3 separate regions of the Homo sapiens genome follow, and regions 2 and 3 are each reported to be linked to region 1. The links are microRNA targets in miRTarBase. Many come from high-throughput screens and were not tested one by one. Region 1 holds a microRNA gene; each other region holds the end of a gene's coding sequence.
What was found. The annotated mature microRNA hsa-miR-6780a-5p reads UUGGGAGGGAAGACAGCUGGAGA and lies in region 1 at 1,576-1,598, opposite strand. An mRNA with a match to its seed (bases 2 to 7 or 8) in the 3' UTR can be bound and repressed. Matches are read on the target gene's strand: a 7mer-m8 pairs with bases 2 to 8, a 7mer-A1 pairs with bases 2 to 7 and ends in A, and an 8mer does both.

Region 1 (3,309 bases):
GTGTGGTGACACCTGCCTGTAGTCCCAGGCTTGATGGATGTAGGGGGATGAATGGCTTGAGCCAGGGAGGTTGAGGCTGCAGTGAGCCATAATTGTGCCACTTCTCTCCAGCCTGAGCAACAGAGCTGAGATCCTGTCTCAAAAAAATTTAAAAAATGAAAAAAAAAGCAGGTATACTAATAAGAAGTGTCCCCTAGAGATTCCCCAACAATCCTCTCCCTCCCACTGAGGTGGAGAGTACCCCAGAGAATATGAAATCAGTGTGTTTCACTGGTAAATTGTCACCATCAAAACAAGTATCATTTTGAGAACAGAATGCATCCGTTCTATGCCATCCTTCTCCACCCACTGCCCAACCCAGCGCAACCACTTCTCTGCTGCGGCTAAGATCACTATCTGCTATGGGTTAGGAGGTATTTCCTCCAGCAAAACCGCCTGGGCACCAAGTTCTGCAAGCTGTGGGGACTGCCATCAAACTGCTCAGCTTTGAGTTGGGAAGGGCATGGTGGGATAAGAAGTAAAAGATAAGTACCCGGATGTCTCTGCTGACATCCAGGCCCCTGTCTTCTACCTGATATTAAAACTCCAGCTATGAAATGAAAATAGACATACACAGAATCACAAACAAAAAATATCTGAATAAAAAATTTTTTAAAACAGTATTCAGAAAAGGGAAACTGGGGCTGTAACTTAAAAAAAAAAAAAAGAGTCCCACATTTCTTTTCTTTTTGAGACAGAGTCTTGCTCTGTTGCCCAGGCTGGAGTGCAGTGGCACAATCTTGGCTCACTGGCAGCCTCTGCCCTCTGGGTTCAAGCAGTTCTTGTGCCTCAGCCTCCCAAGTAGCTGGGACTACAAGCATGTACCACCATGTCTGGCTAATTTTTGTATTCTTAGTAGAGACGGGGTTCACCATGTTGGCCAGGCTGGTCTTGAGTCCTGACCTTAAGTGATCTGCCCGACTTGGCCTTCCAAGTGCTGGGATTATAGGCGTGAGCCACCACACCTGGCCTAATTTTTTTATTTTTAGTAGAGATGAGGTTTCGCCAAGTTGGCCACGCTGGTCTTGAACTCCTGACCTCAAGTGATCCGCCTACCCAAAGTGCTGGGATTACAGGCGTGAGTGACTGCGCCTGCTGCCCCCCACATTTCTTAATTCTCCCCTAGAAGACAAAGTTGGGAAAGTATCTGATTTCTGTGTAATTGCTGCTTTTAGAATCATGAACCTAAACGTTTTCCAGAAACGACTCTCCCAGATCTCATGCACTTATTTCATTTGTAGAATCCCTAAAACACAGCAAAGGGGATATCAGAAGGCCATAAGCAGTAAAGGGCACAGGAATGGGGCAAGCCTAGGGCACACTGGAGCCAACTGTTTTGGTAGACTATACAGAAAACGTAGCACACTTACAGTCTGGGTTGCACTGGCAGAACTTCTCACAGAAATTCTGAGTCATGATGCAGGGGCAGGTGCTGTCACAGGGGCGGTCTGGGTGGTCGCAGGGTTGGTAGTTGTACACTTGTGTGGAAGAGTTATCTAGGAAAGAAAACAGAGGAGGATGCTGCTGTGACCATACTCTCCAGCTGTCTTCCCTCCCAAGTGTCCAGCTGCCCTGATTCAGAGGAGGCTGGTCCTAACAATCTCCTTGGACACACATTTAGCACCTGAAGTGAGAAGACAGGGATGACCGTTGTTCATAAGCTGCAGTGGGGTGATCTGCTTTGTGGGGAGGGTGTGGAGATGGTCTGGGACAACAGGGAAGCTATTCTAAACATTAAATGAGGTCTGGAACCTAGCAAATGGCACACTAGAAAAGTCACATACTGGCCAGGCACAGTGGCTCACGCCTGTAATCCCAGCACTTTGCGAGGCCGAGGCAGGTGGATCATTTGAGGTCAGGAGTTCGAGACCAGCCTGGCCAACATGGTGAAACCCCGTCTCTACTAAAAATACAAAAATTAGCCAGGCATGGTGGTACATGCCTGTAATCCCAGCTACTTGGGAAGCTGAGGCAGGAGAATTGCTTGAACCCGGGAGGCGGAGGTTGCAGTGAGCCAAGATTGTGCCACTGCACTCCAGCCTGGGTGACAGAGCGAGGCTCCATCTCAAAAAAAAGAAAAATCACAGACCACAAGGCCCTTAATGTTACCTCCTAAGAGGTCTTCTCAGTTGCAGTGAGAGGCTCAGCTGTTCTCAGTTGCTGCAGAGAATTCTGCAATCTGCGGAAGTGGCACAGGGTCAACAAGTGCAGCTGGAGGTGGGGTAGGGTGATGACCACAGAGTGAGGCCTCCAGCTGAACTGCTGAAGAATGCCCTGGTAGAACTTACCTTTCTTCAGCTGAATCTTCCTGCAGTGTGCAGCCCACAATCTGAAAAAGACAGGAAGGACAGGTCTCAGTCACGGCCCTAGGGAGCTCTGCAAATGCAGGTAAATGACAACGTGACTTGCTCTGAGGGACTGTGTTTGATGACTGGGGAGTATCTTCCCAAACCCCTCAACAGGACGACTTTGGTACACAGAAGCTAGAGTCCATCCTAAATCCAGCTGGCCTGTGCTACAAGAGTTAAACTTAAACACAACCCCTCCCAAACAAGCAAATAACATAAAAGAACACAACACAGAAATAAAAGAAAGCCCAAGCCTATTGGTCTATTATAAAGCTATTGTTTCTCTCCAAATCTCTCCCTTTGTCTTTGTGGAGGTGGAGATATGGGGGAGTTTCAAGATGGGGAGGTGGGAAGGCCTTTCAGGAATCTTCTCTGAAAGAACTGAAAGGGAGGAGCCACAGGGATTTCCTTCTGTATCTAGAAGTGGTGTCAGCTCCTTCCTCTGATAGGTGATAGTCACTAGGGAACAGGGCCAGGGTGCAGAATTTTTTTAAAAACTTCCAACCTAAGTAAAGGCTATCATGTAACTCAGAAAAACAACACAAACCAAACAAATAAATAAACTCTGATCAGAGTTGAGAAATGGGTAAGGTGGTAACAAAACCAACAAGGAGAAATGGCTTCAGGGTGGAGCCATGAGGCCAGCTCATGTCCTATTGGCCAGAAGCTTAAATAGAAAAACAGACAGTTATGGTCCACAGCACTGGGGGACAAGAAGAGGGCTGATCTAAGGCACAGACCCTCAGGGAGCACTCAGGAGGCTGGCTCTCAGTCATGTGATGCCAAGCTGATGGGCTCACACAGCCTGTGCGGTTGCTAAAGAGGGAGGCAGATGGGAACTCCAAGGGGAGGTCAGAGCACAGGGAACAGCCTGGCTGTAAAACAAAACACTTTGTCCAACCCTTCTTGCCTGTGCTTTCTT
Region 2 (3,000 bases), not on the chromosome of region 1:
GGGTGAGGGAAGCGGAAGCATCCTCTGGCTGCCACCATGCTCCTTCCTGTCACAGCTCCACATTCCCAAGGGGTGCAGAGACCTGCCAGTCCCTTGGAGTCCCAGGAGAGGCCCCTGTGACTGTCCCACTCAGGGAGAGGTACCCTGAAGACCCTCCCTAGTGAAGCCACTGGGTGCCCCAGGCCTCTCCTCTCCTGTTCAGCAGCAGCAGCAGCAGCAAAACCCTGCTCCCCTGGGAGCTCAGTGCCTGGTGCTCCGAGCACAGGCCAGGCCCCATAGGGGAGCACTCTGCCCCTGCCTGCCCTCGGCTGGCTCCCTGTGGCACCCCTGATGCCAGGGTCTCTCCCCTACAGTTTGCTGTGTTCTACAAGGGGGACGAGTGCCTGGGCAGCGGGAAGATCCTGCGGCTGGGGCCGTCTGCCTACACGCTCCAGAAGGGCCAGCGCAGAGCTGGGATGGCCACTGAGAGCCCCAGTGACAGCCCAGAAGATGGTCCAGGCCTGAGTCCCTTGCTCTGACAGAGATGGATCTGCTAGAAGGAACCTGGAGAGCAGGACCCATGGCTGGGCGGCTGGTGAGCAGTCCAGGTGCCCAAGGGCCAGCTTGCTGCTGCCCAAAGCAGAGGAAGCCGGGCTGGCTGAGGGTCCGAAAAGCCTGCAGGGGCCCGGCGAGCCCCAGGAAGAGCCTCAGCTCCAGGCTGGGGCTCTGGCTGCTGGAGCATCTGCTGGCTGGTGGGGTGGCCCGAGTTCCCCTTCACCGCCCCCAGGGAGGGTTTCCCACCTCAGAGTACACCGAGGGGACCTGCAGAGGGGGCTGTCGGGACAGCGTGGAATAAACATTATTTCAAGGACACATAGTCTGATCGCTGCTTCCACTGGGGCCCAGGGGGCTCCACATCACTGACTCCCTGGCGTGGAAAGGCAGGTGGACTGCAGACGCAGCCATGGCAACCTGCGTACCTCTCCCTGAGGTCCCAGCTGCTCCATCCTCTGCCCCCGTATCCCTGCTCCTGGACTCCAGAGTAGGTGCCTGCGATGCTGACCTGTGTCCTTGGCTCTCTTCCTCTTGCTGGGCTTGAGTCCTTCGTAGCGTGTTGTTGGTGCCTCAAGACAGGTTCCTGCGGGGACCAGAGGTGCATTCCCCTTCTCTGGGTGGGAAGGTTCCAGAGGCAGCCAGGTGGTGCGCAGAGGGCCTTGCCCAGATGCCCTGAGTTCTTGCTGGTGCGTCAGGGTGGGGGCTGCCATGGGGCCCACTGTCCATCCTGACCCCTCCTCCCATCTCCCCACTGGGTGTCCCCTGACCTGGGGCACCCTTCCTTCTAGCCTAGGCCCCCACGCAGCAGGGAGTGTCCTGAGGGTGAGGAGTGGGCCAGAACCCCGCAGGCCAGGTGAGGAAACGGGGCCTAAGGTGGAGCCGTGGCCCTTGCTGGGCTGGGGTGGGGAGGTGGGGGGTGTGGGGTCAGTGCTGCCCTGGCCAGGGGCAAGCCCCAGCTCTACCAGGCAGGCAGAGCGCTGGCCAGTGGGACCAGACAGGCCCCTGGGGATCCTCGGCCCAGCTGGGCATGGAGGCCGAGCTAAAGCGCCGCGTTTGTTCTGCCAGCTCAGCCCAGCACGGAGCCTCCCTGGGCTCAGGGGTTCCCTGATTTATGGCTGTGGTCGGGCCTCCAGCCTGGGAACTGAGGGTGGGAGAGCCCTTGTGGTGCCTACTGCTCTGCCCTAGGTGAACCCTCCCAGGTCACAGAAACATGAGTAGGTGGGAGGTGGGGCAGCCAGGCAGAAGGTGGTGTGGGCACCAGGCCAGCAGCGCTAAGGCTGCCCCCGCTCCAACCTCCAGCGGGCTCCACCGTCCTGCCAGCCTCAGGGCCTGTGCATCGGCCAGTGGAGGAAGCGGGGACACAAACCTGCCTCTGCCCCCTTGAGCCCCCAGGCTCCATGGTGACAGCTTCCTGACTGGCAGGGCTCCCCTCTCTAGCAGGCACAATGGCCTGCCCTGCCCCCTACAAGGCCACTGGCCAACTCTGGAGGGCTTTGGTGCGATGTCTCAGAGATTCAGCAGAAACTGTTGGCCAGGGGACCAAGTCTCCAGGCTGCTCTTCTGGCCTCTTTCCTACCCTCCCCAGCACCCAAGGCTGGCACACTCCAGAGGCTGTGCCCCTCAGATGACTTCTTGAAGACCTGGGGGCCTCCAGGAGCACAGGTAGCTAGGTAGCCCCTTCTGCCTGCAAGGGTACCCCCAGTGGCCTGGCCTTAGCCCCTTGCCACACCTATCCATGAAGACGATGGGGGAACATTTTCCAGGCCAAGAGCTGGGTGCCTGTACACCTACACCTACTCCCTGCTTGTGATACAAATGAAAGCAAAGCCCTCGCTCTCCTCTCCCCCTACGTTGTTCCCGGATAATCTCAGTGATACATGGGTCCTAGGATGATGCCCCCTCACCTCACACCTGGGAGGCTCCTTCCCGAGGCCCTGAGCTGGTTTCAAACACCCTGAGCCTGCCTTCTCCCCAGTCTCTGGCTCCCATGTTGCCCTGTGCCGGAGCCTTGCCTGGGCCCAAGCCCCTTCCTTCTTGGGGAGGTTTCTTTTTTTTTCTTTTCAAGAGACAGGGTCTTGCTCTGTTACCCAGGCTGGAGCGCAGTGGTGTGATCACAGCTCACTGCAGCCTTGACCTCCCAAGTAGCTGGGACAACAGGCATACACCACCACACCCAGCTAACTTTAATTTTGTTTTAGAAACAGTCTTGCTATGTTGTCTAGGCTGGTCTTGAGCTCCTGGCCTCAAGCGATCTTGCCTCAGCCTCCCAAAGCACTGGGACTACAGGCATGATCCACTGTGCTAAGTTTTAAAAACTGTAGAGATGGAGTCCTGCTGTGTTGCCCAGTCTGGTCTGGAACTCCCGCCTCAGCCAGCCACTGTTGGGATTACAGACATGGACCACTGCCTGACCCTCCTGGGGGTCTTAACAAGCCTTGCCTCCAGGCTGAGGAGCCCAAGGCGAGG
Region 3 (3,000 bases), not on the chromosome of region 1:
ATAGTGCTGCTATTCTTATTTTGATATTAATCTAACTTTCAAGTTAGTAAGCTAATGATAATGAGCTAACAGATTAATAATAAGGAATAAGAAACTAATAATAGCAGATAAGTTATGGAAAGAAAATAAAAGGCCAATCACATTGACTAATGAAGCCCAAAAGCATGATTAACTAAGATTTCTTATAATGCACTGAATAATTCACAGCATAACATAATTCAGATTTGTTACATACCATATAAAAGCTATTAGTTGACATGGCTAAATTCACCTAAGAGCCAACCTACCTTGTAACTATTAATTTAATTTAAAGCCTTGCTGTTTACTCCATCATTTCTGCCAAATGTAGTCCAAATTGGGTCTCAGCATATTCAAGAAATCAAGCCACAGAAATGTGTACTTGTATTGCTAGGCTCCCTGCAATATTAAAGATTTTGCTTTCTCTGAAGATATTCTGAACCATGATCATCTTTAAGGCACTTCAAATACATTTCTGACCACTAAATTTAAGTAGATACTAATTAATTACTGCCATATTAACAATTCATCACGTAAGCCACAGGAGGCAAGAGTCTCATAAGGAATTGCCTTCACAACCACAGAGATTCCAGAGGTGATCTGAATGAAACACGCACCAATGGCCAGATCCAAAAGGAAAACTACCTAGACTTCCTCAGATAAAAGTCAGGATCTTTAGGAATTAAAACAGGAAGGGACACTATAAAGGAAAAGTGAGGTTTTTTCTTTTTCTTTAACGTACTTCTTTTCTTTGAGCTTCTTGGTCAAATAATTTCAAGGTACATGCTAATAAAAACTACAAATCAGATTTTTGCCTTTAGTGAAGGTGCCTAAAAAGCCAGATGATCTATGACTTTGAGGTGAAACAGCAAAGATAAAGATTTAATGTTCCTGTTATTGTTATAATTAAATACAATGCTGTGGAAGTTAGCATTTCCTCAGAAGTAATTCACAAATATATTTTTATCCTTATCTAACATACAGTGACCATTACTAAATAAGCATTACATGCATGCAGTTTGGCCAAATTATGGAACCTTTTCTGTAATGTGAACTTATTTCAATATAATTCCTGCTTGGCTAGATTCTGATTTGATGTTTAATCAACTTATAAAACCCTAGTGACTGGGAAATGTTAGAAAATTTATCTATAATTGGATCATAAAGTTTTTATATATTTTAAAACCTCTTATTTAGAAAGAGTATCAATAATATCATTTACATATAATTTCTAAAAGAAGAATAGACTTAATTGTTGACAACAATGGGAAGGAATCAAAAGGCAAATTAGGCTGGGTGCGGTGGCTCACGCCTGTAATCCCAGCACTCTGGGAGGCTAAAGCAGGCTGATCACCTGAGGTCAGGAGTTCGAGACCAACCTGGCCAAAATGGTGAAACCCGTCTTTACTAAAAATATAGAAATTAGCTCGGAATGGTGGCGGGTGCCTGTAGTCCCAGCTACTCGGGAGGCTGAGGCAGGAGAATTGCTTGAACCCAAGAGGAGGAGGCTGCAGTGAGCTGAGATCGTGCCACTGCACTCCAGCCTGGGTGACACAGCAAGACGCCATCTCGGGAAAAAAAAAAAAAAAAAGCAAATTAATTATTTTATACTTTAAGACATTTTCAAAGATGGAATCAGACTAATTTGTAGCATATAAATGGTAATGTTTATCCATAATATTTTGGAATTCAGGGGTCTGTGAATCATGTAACCGAATACTAAAGCTATATACACGATATAATTTAAAAGAATGTACACTGTGTACAAGTACACAAAATAGATGTAGAAAAAATAAACAGCAATTTATTGCTATATATTTTAGTATTAACTAAGAATAAGTGGGGTTCTTTTTCTCCTTTGTACAGAGATTTTTCTTTCACTAGGAGCAACAGCAAAACTATCTTTAAAAGGACAAATTTCAAATATAAAAATGGCCTACATGATTTTATAAATTGATTTTTCCTTTAAAGTTTTGATGAAGGCATAATTTTGTGACATTCAAGTAACCTTTAAAACATACTTTTATTCCATCGATACATCTGTCAAGGTTTTGGGGAATCAACCCAACAATGAAGAACTACACATTTTGAACTGGGGTTTTTTTTTGTGATTAAAAAAAAAAAAGAGCTTCTTTTTGCTGCATAAAATAAATCTAAAGGACTGAATTATGGTCTACCTGTACAGCCATTATACATACATACATTAAAGTACTGGACAATAACCTGTCACCTAAGAAGTATAACCGACCGCATTTATGAACAAACGGGGAAAACACATTCTCTAGTTCTAATAAATCATATATTATGTGTATGAAAGCTAGGTTACCAAAAACACATCAACACACACACCTATTTCTGAACCACCAAAAAGCCTCAGGGAAGCTAAAGAAAACACATATTCTTGAGGCAGGCAGGACAGTTGGCTTCCACTTGATGAAGACATGCTTGACTGAGTGATCCTGGGCAAGATGCATGGAGGAAAAAAATCAATGCCACCACCCATTGGCAAAAGAATCACTTTTGTCTAACCTCCTATCATCTTGTAACCTAGAGATGGCCTAAATCTAGACTGAACTTCTGTCTACAGAAATAGCCCTTTAAATAGGCTTTTTTAATAAAAGAGGTCCTAAACTAGGTTCCTCTCCTACTACTAGATAACTATGTTTTAATTTATAAATATATGAATGGGTACCTCTTTTCCAAGCCATTCAATATCTACCAAAATTAAGTAGAATTAAAGCAGTAAAAAAATTGTGATTTTTTAGCTGTATACATTAGGGGGTCACCAGATTTCATATTTTCCCATTTTTAAAAAAATTCAGAATTTCTGTGAATCTTGCTGGAAACGATTTAGTTTCTCTGGATTATTGGATGCCATTTGGGAAAAATCACGAAATATGTCCTGATAAGTTTCATCACCTGCATGAAATAAAATAAAGACACTTTAAACATTTACACAAGTATTAATCAAACAACATTCAT

Region 2: the mRNA of TRMU is a reported target of hsa-miR-6780a-5p. The part of its 3' UTR that is shown has no 7-base or 8-base seed match.
Region 3: the mRNA of ACAP2 is a reported target of hsa-miR-6780a-5p. Seed matches in the 3' UTR shown: 7mer-m8 at 1,348-1,354.

The regions. Positions count from the first base shown.
Region 1 is chr17:42,706,549-42,709,857 of GRCh38, forward strand. It overlaps MIR6780A (microRNA 6780a), which reads right to left and starts at 1,603; the gene lies at 1,536-1,603. It overlaps EZH1 (enhancer of zeste 1 polycomb repressive complex 2 subunit), which reads right to left. Exons shown (of 21, transcript NM_001991.5): 13 at 3,298-3,309; 14 at 2,328-2,368; 15 at 1,410-1,535.
Region 2 is chr22:46,356,489-46,359,488 of GRCh38, forward strand. TRMU (tRNA mitochondrial 2-thiouridylase) reads left to right here. Exons shown (of 11, transcript NM_018006.5): 11 at 354-852. The coding sequence ends at 518. Among named protein-coding and RNA genes, the nearest start is that of TRMU, 22 kb to the left of the region's middle.
Region 3 is chr3:195,276,492-195,279,491 of GRCh38, forward strand. It overlaps ACAP2 (ArfGAP with coiled-coil, ankyrin repeat and PH domains 2), which reads right to left. Exons shown (of 23, transcript NM_012287.6): 23 at 1-2,937. The coding sequence ends at 2,837. Among named protein-coding and RNA genes, the nearest start is that of XXYLT1, 6.8 kb to the left of the region's middle.